Regions from separate parts of the Homo sapiens genome. Here regions 1, 2 and 3 are each reported to be linked to region 4. The links are microRNA targets in miRTarBase. Many come from high-throughput screens and were not tested one by one. Region 4 holds a microRNA gene; each other region holds the end of a gene's coding sequence.

Region 1 (4,069 bases), not on the chromosome of region 4:
CCTCATTTTTGACAACAGAGCAATTTGACCCAGAACCCTTAGCAACAGTCCTTTTTGGATGAAAATCTTTGCAGGGCCTTTTAATTAGGAATTGACAGGGTGATTAACTTATAATTCACAAAAATAAATGTGGAAAAGAGAAGTACAGGTCAATTTCTAGCTGTGTTAAACTGTAAGGACAGCACTATTGGCAAGTGATTGCTTCCTTTTAACAGCTTTTAAAATTTTTCTTAATTGGATCGTTTGTTTTCTAATTGGATAGGGAGAACCATCATATGGCTTTCAATTACTAGTTGTGGCATGGTGATCCTGTCATATGGCACATGCTAAGAAAGTCAGACTGTCAACATATAAGATGAAATATATACCATCTCCAAGCAGCTTTCTGTGTCAATAAGAAAGAGGGGAAACCTCTGATATCCTGGGTAGGTAAAGGCGTGCTGAAATGGGACATAATAACTAGCTTGATTTTCTAGGGACTTGTGTTTCCATTCTACAGACTAAGTTACAATTTCTTAAAATGTTTCATCATCATAACTAGAACTGACCCTAAGAATATAAGATTATAATTTTATTTCACACACAAACACATACATGAGAAAATGCTGGTCTCCTCAAATTAATTTTTTTCCTGCCCATTGGTGAATTTAGAGATTCTCTAAGAAACAAAGTTTCTCTATAGCTTTCTGGCTTTACAGCCTCTATGGGATCCCTTTTGCCTACAGGATAAAATCTGAATATGTTATCATGGCTGATATCTGATCCCAACATCTTTCTCTAGCTTTATATTCCAAAATTGCTAGGCATGCACTTCACCCTTTATTCACTGAACTTCTCACTTTTCTTTGGAGAATGTCAGGTCTTTCATGACTCTGTTCGTGCCATTCCTGTTTCCTGGTGTGTTTTCTGCATTTTTCTTTGGTAAATCTTGTTCATTGGTCAAGATTAGATAGAAAAGGTTACCTTCCCAATGAAGCCACATCTAACTCTGTAACAGAGTCAGAGGACAGTTACTGCCTGTAACTGAGTCTTTTGGTATTTGTCAGCCACTGAGCATTGTTAATATGTCTGGAATAGCTTCTGTTCTGTTTGCCCATTCATTCAACAATACATTTTGAGCATCTTTAAGTATAGGTGCCGAATCCTGGGTCTACACGCTTACCAAGATGGCTAAGGCACCTGATCTTGTATTGAACTGTAATTAATTGTTAGGGATAGTCTCCCTCACTGGGCTGAAACTACAGAGGGTAGAAATATTTGTCTTATTTAATATTTGTGTCACCAGTGCCTAGAATTTTGCCTGGTTCAAACTAGGAGATAAGGAAATGCTCACTGGTGTTTCATGACTTCTTGCTGGAGAATATTGACCAGTTATATGAAATCTAACCTTTTAGTCAACCTAGTATACTTATAATCTCAGCTTCTAAACATGGAAGACTTGATATGGCCGTCATCACTGTATTTGAGATGTTACGGAATCTAATAATAACTTTTTGGTGTAACCCTTTTTATGCCTTTAGTGTGTTAGGTCAGATCCTGTGATGGGCACTTTGGCTCAGCACGTTGGAATGGCCTTTTCCCAGAGAGGAAACACATTCTCTGATTAAATGCCCTTAGCAGGCAGGGACAGGACACAGCTGGGGTTTGAATCAGGCTAAATCCCATCAGATTGGAAATCAAGAAGCTGGTGCTTTTGAAGATTATAAATCTGGAAAGCAACAGAGACAAGGGGCTGTGAGTCCCTGCCCAAAGCAGGTAGTGCCACTTCTCTTTGGCTTTCAGTGCTGGTTCTCTCTGGCTGATGCTTCCAGAATAACTTTAAAGATGGATACGTGTGAAGGGATAAGATTTTAATGCTAGAACCACTAAATCTACTCTCCCCCAACGCTTCAAAAAGGGAAGTAATCAAAGTCTTGGGAAAGACCTAATTGAGAATACGGAATGGCATGGAAATGAGAACGACTTGAAATAGAATGCCAGAAACTCTTGTTTCATGTCTCCATGTTTTTCTGAAAGGCATAATTACAATTTTACTTATAAGAATCACTTAAAGCTAGCAAGTCTGCCAGCCCACTGTTACTGGTGACTTCAGATCATGGAGTTCTGCTTCATGCGACTTTTTTTCAGCTTTTTGTATGTGTATACATCCCACTGGATGAAACTGCACTTCAGCACTTATTGTGGTGGCTTCTCTGTTCTTGGCTACAAGCCCACTTACTGGCGCCATTGCTAAAATGAAGACATTCAAAAGGGACAAGGGAGTCCTCTGCTTCCTCAGGCAGCTCCATGGATGTTGGAGCTGCCTGCACATCTGGCTATCTCTTGAGCAGACTCTCCCCGTCTCCTGAATACCCCATCTAAACAGACAGCCTATGCCGTGGAGCTCATTATTGCCCTAAGTGTTTGCTCTGGATCTGTGCTTCACCCGTTTTATTTACATGTTTTATTTTTCATTTTATGAACAAATCGATAACTATACTTACTCTTTATCACACTGGATTAGTTTTATTTATTCTGTTTGAATTTGATTAAAAAGCTGTCAAACGTAAGTCTACATTTTTATCAGCAGAATACTTTCATAAAACCAGTATGAGATGTGTTCAACTAGAACATACTTTTCAAAATAAAACAATGTTTGATATATTCTAGACAGTTACCCTTTTGTTTATCCATGACAACTGAAACTATCAAATGGATAAAGCAATCTAAGTCTAGTCAAGTAATCCTTAGGGCATATGAAAAAAAAGGCTTTAAAAAAGTTCTTTCTAGATGGATTTAATGTAATTCACCAATAAAGCATCCTCAGAAGTATAATAAAAATTCTACATAAAATGACATAGCCAGGGAAAAGGAAGATATACAGTTTGATGAAGATTCAAAATGGATGTTAGCATTAAAAATGAGCAGTCATGCAATTCCTGTGTAATATAAAGATCAAAATTGCAGGGCACTAATTTTGCTTCTAATTTATAAGATAGTGTGTTTATGGGACTACATTTGTATTTATAAAAAATTCAATGGCAAATGCTTTGAACTGTCATTTTTCTTGAGAAAAATTGCCATTCAACATGTTATATTTATAAATTTCACTGTATAGCATTGAAAATAGCTGGACTATATTTATATATACAAAAATGTTCTGGAAAGATGAAATATATATGTTTTGGTTGTGAACCTGATCTCCTTCGTTCAATTTACAAATTAATAGCTTCTGCCTTCCTACCTCTTTGTGTTCTATCCGTGTCCAAGTAACAGTATGGAGTCATGTTTAAGGCAGCCTGGATCTTGGGAAAGCACATGTGTGCACATGCACCCCTACTCCCAACCACACTCACTCACATCTCCACATACACAACCACACACCCAATTCCCTGGAGCAGCATTAAGGCCATTTTTTGAATATGTGCTAGTCTTTGCATATTATTTAATAGCATGAGGCATGCATGATGTGCTCCTAGAAGTGCTAGAAGGCATAGCACCAAAGGGGTTAATGTAGAACACATAGAGGCAAATATTGTCAATTATTTTATTCAAATGTTTGGAACTTAAACACAAAATCATCATTAAGTTTTCACAAAATGAGGCATCTGTCGCTTGAAAGGCAAAAAATATTTCAGAAATATGTTTACAGAAATGTAAAAATATTAGGCATCAAGACAGATGTGAACGTATTCAGTAGCTTGTCTTGTCTGTCAGTCTTCCTCTGAGCCGAAGATCTTACTGTACTCACTCAGCATGAGCTCAGCTATCTGGTTCTGGTAGACCATGTGGATCGCCATGTTTCCTGTTTCATTTTCAGCTCGCAGAAGGGTAGGTCCAAATACAATCCCCAAGCTTTGCGTGGACATGAGGTTCTTGGAGGCTTTGGCCACTATCCTGTGGAGAGAGAGAAAAAAAAATAATTTCACTGGAGTTTGAAGTGAAGTTATGGCTACTTTGGAGTGATTAAAAAAGGTTTCTCATTCAGGAAAAGTAACTGCATTATAACATTATTTAATCTTCTACCCTACATACTTTACTGTATGGAAGTAGAACCTATGAGTTTTGGGGAAAGGATACATTGCCTTGT
Region 2 (4,069 bases), not on the chromosome of region 4:
TCACACTGCAGGAGCCAGCCCTGCTGTCAGACTGACGGTGCCAAACCCCCTTCTCCAATGCTGCCCCCAAAAGGAACCAGGGATCCATTATCCTGATCATGTCAAACGGCACCACGGTGAATACGAGTCTTGGAAGCCAGACACTCTGGGTTCACATGCCCCCTGGGCCCGCCCTTACGGTCTCTGCCTCAGTTTCCCCATCGTAAGAATGATGTAGGTACCTCAAAGTGTTGTTACAACGATTAAGTAAATCTTAAGATACATTTGAAACTTGAACACGGGTTTCAATTGTGCAGGTGCACTTAAACGTGGACTTTTTTTCTACCTCTGCCACCCCTGAGACACCAAGACCAACCCCCTCCTCTTCCTCAACACAGAGACCAGGATGAAGATCTTTATTTATGATGATCCACTTTCACTGAATAATTTTTTTTTTTTTGAGACGGAGTCTCACTCTGTCCCCCAGGCTGGAGTGCGGTGGTGCAATCTTGGCTCACTGCAACCTCCGCCTCTTGGGTTCAAGTGATTCTCCCACCTCAGCCTCCTGAGTAGCTGGGACTACAGTCGCCTGCCACCATGCCAGGCTAATTTTTGTATTTTTAGTAGAGTCGGGGTTTCACCATATTGGCCAGGCTGGTCTCGAACTCCTGACTTTGTGATCCGCCTGCCTCTCTCGGCTTACTGCAAGCTCTGCCTCCCGGGTTCAGGCCATTCTCCTGCCTCAGCCTCCCGAGTAGCTGAGACTACAGGCGCCTGCCATCATGCCCGGCTAATTTTTTGTATTTTTAGTAGAAACGGGGGTTTCACCATGTTAGCCAGGATGGTCTCGATCTCCTGACCTCCTGATCTGCCCATCTTGGCCTCCCAAAATGCTGGGATTACAGGCATGAGCCACCATGCCTGGCTCTTAGGATTTTCTTAATTACATTTTCTCTAGCTTACTCTATGGTAGACAGTGTAGTACGTATAACATACAAGATGTTTTGACTGTTTATGTTATCAGGTAAGGCTTCTGGTCAACAGCAGACTATTAGTTGTTTTGCGGGACTGAAAAGTTATACAGATTTTCGACCATGATGGGTTGGTGCCCCTAATCCCTGTGTTGTTCAAGGGTCAGTTGCACTAGCATAATGCTAGTCACGTGAAATACAGTCAGTGCACACTGGGGTCTCAGCAGGGCTGGTTTTCCCCTTGGAACCCTCTCTCTTGTCGCAGTCATGGGAGACTGAGGCACAGAAACAGAATCTAATAAAGCAGGGTAGAACTTGGGTTCTAGAGCAGTTTCCTAATAATCCACCCCAAACCAGGTGAGGCTGGCATCTAGCCCACTCGGGGCCCTGCCCAACCACCCACACCCCCTCCCCAGCATGCAGGCCCAATCCTTGCCCGGCCTGGTGCCATTTTTCCATGGGACTCTGATGGTGGCGGTTCACATCTGGAGTCTAGACTCGCAGGCTCTGCGGGCCAGGCCTACCGCCTGGGCTGGGCCACCACTGCCCGCTGTTTGCTCAGCTGAAGCTGGTTAATTGGAATTACAGTGGCCTCTGCGGTGCCGGCTGGCCGGGCGGGCCCTAGTCCGCTGCTCCGGAGGTCTGTGGAACATCTGGCTGGACCAGGACAGTCATTAGGTGGCAGGCGCTCGGCGCCACTGCCACCTCAGCCTCTGCCGGGGGCTGGTGGTGACTCAATAAGGCCTTTGTGCGCCCTGGGCCGCAGAGCCAACCATGCTATGTGCCTGGGCCGCCTGCCCCATCTGCCTCAGAGGGGCCTTGTTCCAGGACCACATGGCCTCAGAGTTGGCTGGAGTGGGTAGAGATTCCAGAAGCCCCTGAAAGGGAACCCCCCTCCCTGAAAGGAAGAAGCCTTTTGAAATTTTCTACCCCTTTTCCTTCCTATAGAACCCTGGAGCCAGTAAAATTGGGTGGCTGGGGCTCAGGGATGCCCAGCACACCAGCCAGTGACTTGGTCCCAGGGGTCTGGGGAGGAGCTGCGGTCCTTAGGAACCTGGAATTGTTTGGCTTGGCTAAGGTCAAATCGATGTCCATGGGCAAGCTGCCTCAATTCCCTCATCTGCACAGCGGAGCGAATAATAGCACATACAGCCCAAGACTCAGAAGGAAGTGAAATCCTATATCAAGGTGCTTAGTGCATGTCAATACCTAGTGAGGGTATTACAGTCATACTCCTGAGTCTCTGGTCATGATTGTCCTTTGGCCACTTCCAAACTGGAAGCCACTGTTATTTTCAGCCTTTGAACCTGAAGCTTGGGCAAGGGAGAGCCCCGGGTCTGTCAGTATGGTGGCCACCCGCTCCTGTCTGTTTCCCCACTCAGTGACCTCATACCAGGTGGGTGGATGAGGGTTGTGGCCACCGTTTGCCTGGTTTGGGGTGGTGCCCGGTCGGTCTCCTGCTGGCCGGGGCTGCTGTCTTCAGCAAACTTTAGGGAAACCCGGGCGCTGAGATTTCAGCTCTTAGGCCCCAGAAGGCCTCTAAGAATCACTAGCTCAGTCCTTCCCCACCCCAGCCTCTAGAGGTCCTGGCCCTTGTGCCATGACTGGCCCCACAGTAGTCATTTTGGGAAGAAACCCAGGAATGGGCAGAATGGGAGACAAAGCCTTGATCTTCAGGGCAACCTAGAGTCTGAGCCCTCATCAGCCGAAGCCATATGGGCACAGGGACCAGGGAGGCTGGCAGGTTCTACAGTTACTGCTTCCCTTGTGAGTCAGGTCAGCCCTGGGTACTCCCCACCACTCTCACCATGGTGAGTGGGAGACTCTCATCTGCCAACACCCTTGCTGCCCCCAAGTATTTCGAGGAAGGTGGTGAGAAAAGTGCTAGCTGGTGAGAGAGGGCTCGTGGGCCCCCTCTACTGGCTAAAAGGTGTTTTACGGGTGCAGGGCTGGCCAGGCACTGGGGTGGGCACCCTTAAGGGGCTTGCAGAAAAGATTTTGGGTGGGCAGGTGAGACCTAGAAAACCCAGGGCAAGACACTGGGTGCTTAAACAGAGAATCTTCCAGGAGCACAGTGGCCCGCCCTGGCCATGGGATGAGTTTTTAATGTGAGGCAAAATCAGTCCACAATACAAAATCTAAAAATCACACCCACTTTTCCCACCTGGCTCCCGGGGAGGGGGGAAGCTGGGGGTTTCTTTTGCCTGCAGGGTGTGGGGAGGAGCAGAGGAGGGCCAAGAAAGGGAGAAGGAAACAGAGGCCACAGAGGCCTGGCTGGAGGTATCCTGCTGCCCCCTGCCCTGTCCTGGAGCTGCCCTTGGCCTCCTGTGCCCTCTACCGGTGCACGCCTGTGTGGGCCCAGCCCCCATCTGTCTGGTCTGGCCCTGAGAGGCTCGGGCACCAGCTGCATCATTTCTCTTTCTTCTCCAGCCCCTTCGATGCTGATGCCTCTGTTCCCTCTTTGGATTCTGTCACTGCCGCTGGATCCTTAGGATTTGACTCCTCATAACTGACCAAAAAAAAAAAAACAACAATAAAAATTCATTTAGAGGAGAGGGTGAGCAGAACCTTGGTTGTCCCCTTCCCCCACCCCCATCCTAGGAAAGCGCCTGGTCACATGCAGAGCGTCAGCCCTGTGTCCACTGCCCAGCACCTAACAGCGCCTGGCCCCAGCCCTACCACATGCCCTCCTCAGGCAGGCTGCTCTGCTTTCTCTGAGCCTGGGGGTACCAGGAGGCAGCAAGGGCAGCAGCCAATGGAAGAGAGGTTGGGCCTGGGCTTGTGTGGGCTGATTTCAAGCTTCCTGAACCTTCTGCTGTAGCGTGGAAAAAGGGGTGGCCATGACAAGGCTACAAGAGATGGAGATAGGCTGCCTCCCAGGGCACACAGCATGAATCAAACAGCTCAGCCCCAGAGGTGAGGGCACTGCTGTACTGGCAAGCGGCAAGGTGCTGCTCTGAAGACAGACACCCTGGCTTAGCTTCTTCTATGGGCTTCATTTTTCAAGCAACTGAGTTCATGCCAAAGATAATACAAATCTTTCCTCACCAGATAAACCCCGTGAGGCAGGAATGTGCCCACTTACAGATGAAGAAAGTAACTTGCCTAAGGTTATACAT
Region 3 (4,069 bases), not on the chromosome of region 4:
GAACACAAACTGGCTGGGTGTTAAATTCCACTTGTGTTTATGATATTTAATAATGTCCTAAGAAGGCAGCCAGTAGAACCTTGGCTACTGTTTTTCAAAAGTGGCTCTGCATTGCTCCTACATAACCCCGTACATTACTCCACAGTCCTGTTAGAGCCCTGAAAGGGAAACTGCTAAAAATAAGGTTCTTCATTTAGGTGACTAGGAACTCCCAATATTTTTGCCCTAGGGAATACTGGGAGACAAATCTCTACGATCACAAATTACTAATGGTTTCCCCAGAACTGCTGGTGGCCATATCCCCTGGCATGTGGAAGGGCCCAGAAGAGGCCACTCTACTGCAGAGGCCAACAGAAGGTATGATTGGTGGAGGGATGGGGGGGTGGTTGGAGGGGCAAATGGAAGGGAGCTTGAGTCACTAGATCCAATCAAGCCCATAGTCATGGCCACCACTGTCCTCAAGTTCTATGAGCCAGCTTTTTTTTTTTTTTCCTTAAGCTAATTTGAGCTGTGCTTCTACCACAGCTAAGATTCATGCCTAATATATCTTTTCCCTAGATTACTCCCTATGTACCATAAAAATCTGGTGTGTAAATACACATGAAGGGCATCCCTCATCCTTATTTGCTATATTAAAAATATTAACTAACTCTTAGCTTGCTGCGGATGCCAGGAATGCAGTAATGAATTTGGAAAACTATCCAAACAAACAGGGGAATCTTCATTCGCAAAGAATATGGGAGGGAGAACAGCAGATTTTTAATTTGGATAGTAAGACGAGCAGCCCTTAAAGAACCAGGTAAAAGAAGTTGGTTTATTTAGGCTTGTTAGTGGGCAAGGTTGAGACACTGGCCAAGATACTTTTTTTTTTGGGGGGGGGGGGGGTGGTGATTGATTGATAGGGTCTCACTCTATTGCCCAGGCTGGAGTGCAGTGGAGCAATCATAGCCACGACCTCCCAGGCTCAAGTGATCCTCCCACCTCAGCCTCCTGAACAGCTGGGACCACAGGTGCACACCTGGCTGATTTATTTTATTTATTTATTTATTTATTTTTTTTTTTGTAGAGTGTTGCCCAGGCTGGTCTCAAACTTCTGGGCTCAAGCAACCCTCCAGCCTCGGCCTCCCAAAGTGTTGGGATCATAGGCATGAGACACCGTGCCTGGCGAAGATATTTTTACCGAAAAGGACAGAGGGTGTACTTGGAGGTAAGGGACCCAATTCCATTAGTCTAGCCACAATAATGTGTTTGTTTCCTCATAACCACAGTCTTGGTTGGGCTGCTGTAACTAAATATCAACTGGGTGGCTTATAAACAATAGAAATTTCTCACAGTTCTGGCTGGAAAGTCTAGGTTCAAGGCACTGGCAGATTCAGTATCTGGTGAGAACCCACTTTCTGGTTCACGGATGGTGACTTCTTGCTGTGTTCTCCCATGGCAGAAGAAATGAGGGGGTCTCTATCTTATCTTGAGTCTCTTTTAAAAGGCACTACCCTCATGATCTAATCACCTTCCAAAGGCCCCAGCTTCTATTACCATTACCTGGGGGGTTAAGGTTTCACCACCTGAATTTTGGGGAGGATACAAAAATACAGACCACAGGAGCCACTGAATGCGGGGAGCGAGACAGCTCCCCAGCTGCTCAGTAATGGAGAGCTGAGAGGGTGGAGGTCTGTTTTCTCAGCCATTCTTAGTGTTTTTATTCTAGGACTGATCTTAACTTGAGGATCACAGGTTTTTTTGTACAATGGAGTTCTGTTTGTTTGTAATTTTTTTTTTTTTTTGAGACGGAGCTTTGCTCTTGTAGCCCAGGCGGGCGTGCAATGGCACGATCTCGGCTCACTGCAGCCTCTGCATCCCGGGTTTAAGCAATTCTCCTGCCTCAGCCTCCTGTGTAGCTGGGATTACAGGCACACAATACCACACCTGGCTAATTTTTTGTATTTTTAGTAGAGACGGGGTTTCACCATGTTGGCCAGGCTGGTCTAGAACTCCTGACCTCAGGTGATCTACCCACCTCGGCCTCCCAAAGTGATGGAATTATAGGCATGAGCCACTGCGCCTGGCTGTTTGTTTGTAATTTATTTTTTAAATGAATATAAATAAGATCCCCAGGACCGCAAGTGCAGGGATGCTAAATAACCTGTCTTGATCCCTCATCTGGTGAGAAGTAGAAAGAGGATTAGATTCCAGATGTTCTGATGACCAGGCCATATCCCCTGAGTGCTAAGGTTGACATTAAAAATTCATTACAAAGATCCTGCCCTCCTGTCCTTGGACATCACAGCTCCTGCTTGTTCCTGGGCATTCAGACTCTGGGACTTATACCAGCATTCCCCATGCCCCTCCCCAGGTTCTTAGGCATTTGGACTTGAACCAAGTTGTTATACCACCAGCTTTCCTGGGTCTCCATAAGAGTGGGACCCTGATCCAATACAATTAGTGTTGCTGTAAGAAGAGACATGAGAGCCTATTTTCTCTCTCCCCCACCAGGCACATACCAAAGAAATGCCATGTGAGAACAAGCAAGAAGGTGGCCATCTGTAAACCAGGAAGAGTGTCCTCACCAGAAAATGAAGTGGCTTCAACTTTGATCTCAGAATTCCAGCCTCCATAACTGTGAGAAAATACATTTCTGTTCTTTCAGCCAGTCTATGGCATTACATTATAGCAACCCAAGCAAACTAAGGCATGCCCAGAAATGACTACAGGGGTAAAAATGAGCAGATAATTGGTTTTTAGTGTCCTGAAGTTTATCTGCTTTTCCTTATGTACTTATATCGTTGCCACTGCCACCAGGCTACTCTTCCTTCTTGTCTGCTCCCAAACAGGGAAGAGCGAGCATAATGGTTCCTAAACATTTCCGTTATACCCGTACAGTTCTGATAGAGTTGTAAAAATGGGAGAATATGAAGGTTATTCAGGCTTCCCAATGATATGGTGTGAGATTCACTCTGTACTAAATATCCCAAAACTCTAGCCACAAACACAGCAAAACTCAAAGTCAACAAGTTTTCACTGAAAATAGATTTCATTTCATTCAAATTAGAAATGTGTTCTCCCAAACCGCCTCCCAACAAAGGTCTCTGCTTGATAAATGAAAAGATAGTAAAAGAAAACTTCACATTTCTTTTTATGTGGATCTATCAAAAGGTACATAATCAAAACAACTTTAACACCCGACCTATCCATGAGGAGTCTGGATGATTCACTCTGAAGGAAAAGGGGAGAGAAGAGAGAATCACTGCTCTGATTTGAAGTGTGCAAAGTTCTTATCTATGTCACTTAACACTGGTATAATTAATACAGAAAGGAAAATGACCCTCAAGAGGAAGGTTTCATTGAGCAGAGCGTAAGAGGAACAATAAGAGGGTAGGAGACACCTCCTGAGAAGGTTTGCTTGTGTTCAGCTGAAGATTAATAGGAAACAGTGAAAAAGCAACGTCCTGTGATCAGTAACTTTAAAGACAAGCTTGGTTCTCTCTTTCTGGCACTACTGACATTCCCACCATTCTAGCTTCCAAATTCTGGAAAAAGAGAAGATGATTAACAAAAATAGAGAATGTAGAAACTTCTGGTTTTGTGCCTACAGGATTGGCACCAGACCCTCAGTGCTCACTTGCTCCATCTACAAGGCAGCACCCCTCCCAGAGGCAGCCAGGGAGGCCTCTCCACCAGGGCCTGCGCTGGCTGGTGGTGCGGCTTCCTCCCTGGGCGCAGCACCAAGTGCACGTCTCCTACTTGGCCATCTTGCGGATCATGTAGTTGAGGATGCCCCCGTTGAGGAAATAAGTGAGCTCCACATCAGTGTCAAACCTCATGACAGCCTGGAAGGTCTTGCCAGTATCCAGCTGTGGCACAAAGAAACAGAAGCATCATTGAGGGAGGTGGCGAGACAGCTCTGCTCGGAGGAAATTCTGCCCAGCCTGCCCCTCAGGTGTGGTCCACACTTCAGTAACACCAGCAGCACATGAGGACATGCAAGGCTGCTGGCCCCAGCCCAGACCCACTAAATCAGAAGATGCATTTCAGCAAGATCTCTGGGAGGCTGCTTTGCCCATTACAGTTT
Region 4 (4,000 bases):
GTGGGTGGGGAAGGGCCCCAGTGCTGTTTCTACCCCAACCTGCCAGTCTTCTTTCTCCATTTTCTAAGGAGATGATCCCTACTCAAGTGCAGAGCCCCATGTGTCAGGTGTGAAACGGTAAGTATGGCACCTCCCCTGGGGGTGAGGTGGATGGAGGGTGGGGGTGTACTCATGCCAGGTTGCTGCATCTACAGGTCCCGCTCAGGTGAGGGCGAGGTGAGCGGCCTTATGCGCAAGGTGCCACGAGTGAGCCTTGAACGCCTGGACCTGGACCTCACAGCTGACAGCCAGCCACCCGTCTTCAAGGTCTTCCCAGGCAGTACCACTGAGGACTACAACCTTATTGTTATTGAACGTGGCGCTGCCGCTGCAGCTACCGGCCAGCCAGGGACTGCGCCTGCAGGAACCCCTGGTGCCCCACCCCTGGCTGGCATGGCCATTGTCAAGGTAAGCCTGTCCCAAGGAACTATAGCTGTAGGATGAAGCCTGTAGTCCAGGTCTGGACCCTGTTGAACACCCCTCATCACCACCTTGCAGGAGGAGGAGACGGAGGCTGCCATTGGAGCCCCTCCTACTGCCACTGAGGGCCCTGAGACCAAACCTGTGCTTATGGCTCTTGCGGAGGGTCCTGGTGCTGAGGGTCCCCGCCTGGCCTCACCTAGTGGCAGCACCAGCTCAGGGCTGGAGGTGGTGGCTCCTGAGGGTACCTCAGCCCCAGGTGGTGGCCCGGGAACCCTGGATGACAGTGCCACCATTTGCCGTGTCTGCCAGAAGCCAGGCGATCTGGTTATGTGCAACCAGTGTGAGTTTTGTTTCCACCTGGACTGTCACCTGCCGGCCCTGCAGGATGTACCAGGGTGAGTGTGAGGCTGGTGGGGGTCAAGTCTGGGTGTTGGGCTGTCTGGACAGGATCATGTGCAGACCCTTATTTTCTTCACCCTAGGGAGGAGTGGAGCTGCTCACTCTGCCATGTGCTCCCTGACCTGAAGGAGGAGGATGGCAGCCTCAGCCTGGATGGTGCAGACAGCACTGGCGTGGTGGCCAAGCTCTCACCAGCCAACCAGCGGGTGAGGGCTGGGGTTACTTAGGTGGGGTTGCCCAGAGAGGCTTTATAGGTGCTGCCCAGAGCTGTGACATCCCTTACAATGTTTGTAGAAATGTGAGCGTGTACTGCTGGCCCTATTCTGTCACGAACCCTGCCGCCCCCTGCATCAGCTGGCTACCGACTCCACCTTCTCCCTGGTGAGTCCTAGGATGGGAAAGGGGAAGGGGGTGGTGGCTGCTGGGTCTCGCCCTCAACCTGTGCATGTATATGTGTGTCTTTGTGTGTGTATGTGTGATCTCTGCCTGCAGGACCAGCCCGGTGGCACCCTGGATCTGACCCTGATCCGTGCCCGCCTCCAGGAGAAGTTGTCACCTCCCTACAGCTCCCCACAGGAGTTTGCCCAGGATGTGGGCCGCATGTTCAAGCAATTCAACAAGTTAACTGAGGTGAGCCAGTGGAATGGAGAGGCTGTGGGCAGGGGGAGATGTGAAGGAAAGAACTAGGACCCATTCATCCACTGCATTCCTGCTTGGCCCAGGACAAGGCAGACGTGCAGTCCATCATCGGCCTGCAGCGCTTCTTCGAGACGCGCATGAACGAGGCCTTCGGTGACACCAAGTTCTCTGCTGTGCTGGTGGAGCCCCCGCCGATGAGCCTGCCTGGTGCTGGCCTGAGTTCCCAGGAGCTGTCTGGTGGCCCTGGTGATGGCCCCTGAGGCTGGAGCCCCCATGGCCAGCCCAGCCTGGCTCTGTTCTCTGTCCTGTCACCCCATCCCCACTCCCCTGGTGGCCTGACTCCCACTCCCTGGTGGCCCCATCCCCCAGTTCCTCACGATATGGTTTTTACTTCTGTGGATTTAATAAAAACTTCACCAGTTCCTCAGGCGTTGGCTGGTTGGGGGACTGTGGTCCTGGGGCCTGGTTTATTGACTGTATCTACTAGTCAGCCTTATCAAGCACTGGTGGCACAAGGGAGGGGGGTCTTGTCCCCCACCTATCGAAGCCCATGTGTATGGATGCCTAGGGAGTGGGGAAGACTGCCTCCTTGCCCTTTCTGGGTATGGGGAGGGTCACCCAGGGCAAAGGATGTACACACTAGAGGCTTGTTGGGTACCCTGTGGGATACTGGGTAGGTGTGACCTACATCCCTGTGTAGGCAGGGTTAGCCCCAGGTGTAGCACAGCCACTCTACTGAATGCTTCCTAAATTTTGGTGCTGTAGCTGTTTCTCATCTTCAGAAGGTCCCACAGTGAACTGAGACCTTCCAGATGTGGTTTTTTTCCCTGTCTCCCTTTGCTGAGTCCACTTAACATTATCATTCATCTCTGTGTTATGATTTAGTTACTCTACAGTCGAGCCTGTGTGAATCCCAAGGCCACCCCCTTGCCTCTATTGGTTGGTCTGGACTGTCCTTGAGTGTTGTCATTAAACCATCACTGGACCAAACAGTGTTGGACACTACAGCCTGGCAGATGAGGCCTGGACTCTCAAGATCCTACCAGGGTGTTTGGGCAGTCCAGTATCTTGGGAGAGGTGATGGAGAAGGGCCCACAGCTCACCTGAAGCTCCCAGCTCCTGAAAATCCCAGGTGGACTTTGCTTGTTCACCCCTGCCCCAAACCCCCACCCTTAGCTTAGTACCAAGTGCCTCTTGCCTTAGTGATGCCCATCCTCCCAGGGACCCCAGTCTGGTCCCACATCAGGCCAAAAGTCACATGGGCCTGGAGACTAGTGTCAAATCTCTTTTATTACAGAGGGGTTGTGGTAAAAGATCCTGGGCATCCACTGGTTATCTCGGAGTGGCAGGGGCACTCAGTCCCTCCGCAGGTTCTTAAGCCGTTCCTCCAGGTCTGCATCAGCATCAGCTAGGGCTGAGGCTGCGGCCTCTGCTTTTTTCCCACCAGCAGCCACACTAAGCGAGCCCCCAGTTGAGGGGAGGTCTGCAGAGAAAGTGGGGGTTTGAGCAGGTGGGGTCAGGCAGCGGAGGGGAGTAATGCAGGGAAAGGGAGGGCTTGGAGCTGTGGCTGGGCCTTGGGTGGGAAATGGGGTCCAGGATTTGGAGCACTCACTCGACAGCTCATCTGTTAGGCTAAGTCCCAGCTCATCCAGAACCTGGGACACCACAGCATCACTAGGGAAGAGAGAGAACTCAGTGAGGGCTATGCACTCCGTGAGGGCCAGGCAAACATCTCCACCCTCCCATCCAGTTTCCCCATACCTCTCCTCTTCATCTTCCTCATCACCCATGGCATCATCAATGGCATCATTCATCATCTCCTCCTTCATATCCATGATCTCTGCCTGCCGCTCAAACTCCATCATGATCTTCTGGATCTGGGGCAACTTCAGCTGGAAGTGACAGGAGTGTGAGTGTGATCCCCATGGGTCGTGGGAGTGGGAAGGGGGATTGGGAAAAGCGCACCTGTCTGTTCATGGTGCCCATGGCCTTGGTGACACCCTTCATGGCTTGTGCCATCGAGTTGTTGGACTTGAGTGTCTGGATCTTGAGGGACACAGCCTGGATGTTGGCCCGCATCAATACAAACTTGCGCACATAGCGCCGGGTGCGCACCAAGTCTTTTGCCATGATGCGAACAGCATCCTGCAGAGTAGACAAGGGTATCAAGGACACAGGAATGAGATTATCCTACACTTCTTGACACCCCATTAGTTGGTTGTCCCTCCCCACCAGCCCAATTTGCAATTCCACTTGAAGTTTCCAGAGACTCTGGCTAACCCAATGGTCACTGGTCCCTCCCTCCTTCTGACCTAACCCTCCTCTGCCTCTTGGGCCACCAACTCCCTGGGCTCCTTTGTAAGGTCCTCCTCACTTCTCTTGATCTGTAAATGGTAAAAGAAAGGCCCCAGGCTCACTCCTGAGGGTTCCTTTTCCCTCCATGTTTTCAGTCATTCTTTTGACTTACAACAGCCATTCCTCAATTTTTATTCCCAGCCTA

Evidence for each region. The annotated mature microRNA hsa-miR-6807-5p reads GUGAGCCAGUGGAAUGGAGAGG and lies in region 4 at 1,492-1,513, shown strand. An mRNA with a match to its seed (bases 2 to 7 or 8) in the 3' UTR can be bound and repressed. Matches are read on the target gene's strand: a 7mer-m8 pairs with bases 2 to 8, a 7mer-A1 pairs with bases 2 to 7 and ends in A, and an 8mer does both.
Region 1: the mRNA of ARHGAP15 is a reported target of hsa-miR-6807-5p. The part of its 3' UTR that is shown has no 7-base or 8-base seed match.
Region 2: miRTarBase lists HM13 as a target of hsa-miR-6807-5p. The part of its 3' UTR that is shown has no 7-base or 8-base seed match.
Region 3: the mRNA of ACO1 is a reported target of hsa-miR-6807-5p. Seed matches in the 3' UTR shown: 7mer-m8 at 2,050-2,056 and 7mer-m8 at 469-475.

Annotation. Positions count from the first base shown.
Region 1 is chr2:143,767,796-143,771,864 of GRCh38, reverse strand. ARHGAP15 (Rho GTPase activating protein 15) reads right to left here. Exons shown (of 14, transcript NM_018460.4): 14 at 3,513-3,876. The coding sequence ends at 3,693. All of the region lies in intron 2 of ARHGAP15-AS1 (ARHGAP15 antisense RNA 1), which reads left to right. Among named protein-coding and RNA genes, the nearest start is that of ARHGAP15-AS1, 6.3 kb to the left of the region's middle.
Region 2 is chr20:31,568,510-31,572,578 of GRCh38, reverse strand. HM13 (histocompatibility minor 13) reads right to left here. Exons shown (of 13, transcript NM_178581.3): 13 at 3,036-3,459. The coding sequence ends at 3,360. The region is part of intron 2 of HM13-AS1 (HM13 antisense RNA 1); the gene reads left to right. Among named protein-coding and RNA genes, the nearest start is that of HM13-AS1, 2.7 kb to the left of the region's middle. RefSeq lists a silencer at 2,679-2,973.
Region 3 is chr9:32,449,780-32,453,848 of GRCh38, reverse strand. ACO1 (aconitase 1) reads right to left here. Exons shown (of 21, transcript NM_002197.3): 21 at 1-3,851. The coding sequence ends at 3,738. Among named protein-coding and RNA genes, the nearest start is that of ACO1, 67 kb to the right of the region's middle.
Region 4 is chr19:58,548,794-58,552,793 of GRCh38, forward strand. MIR6807 (microRNA 6807) reads left to right here and starts at 1,492; the gene lies at 1,492-1,583. It overlaps TRIM28 (tripartite motif containing 28), which reads left to right. Exons shown (of 17, transcript NM_005762.3): 11 at 69-117; 12 at 195-447; 13 at 538-857; 14 at 944-1,067; 15 at 1,156-1,242; 16 at 1,354-1,491; 17 at 1,584-1,922. The coding sequence ends at 1,760. It overlaps CHMP2A (charged multivesicular body protein 2A), which reads right to left. Exons shown (of 6, transcript NM_014453.4): 3 at 3,466-3,645; 4 at 3,262-3,392; 5 at 3,113-3,174; 6 at 2,773-2,983. The coding sequence ends at 2,856.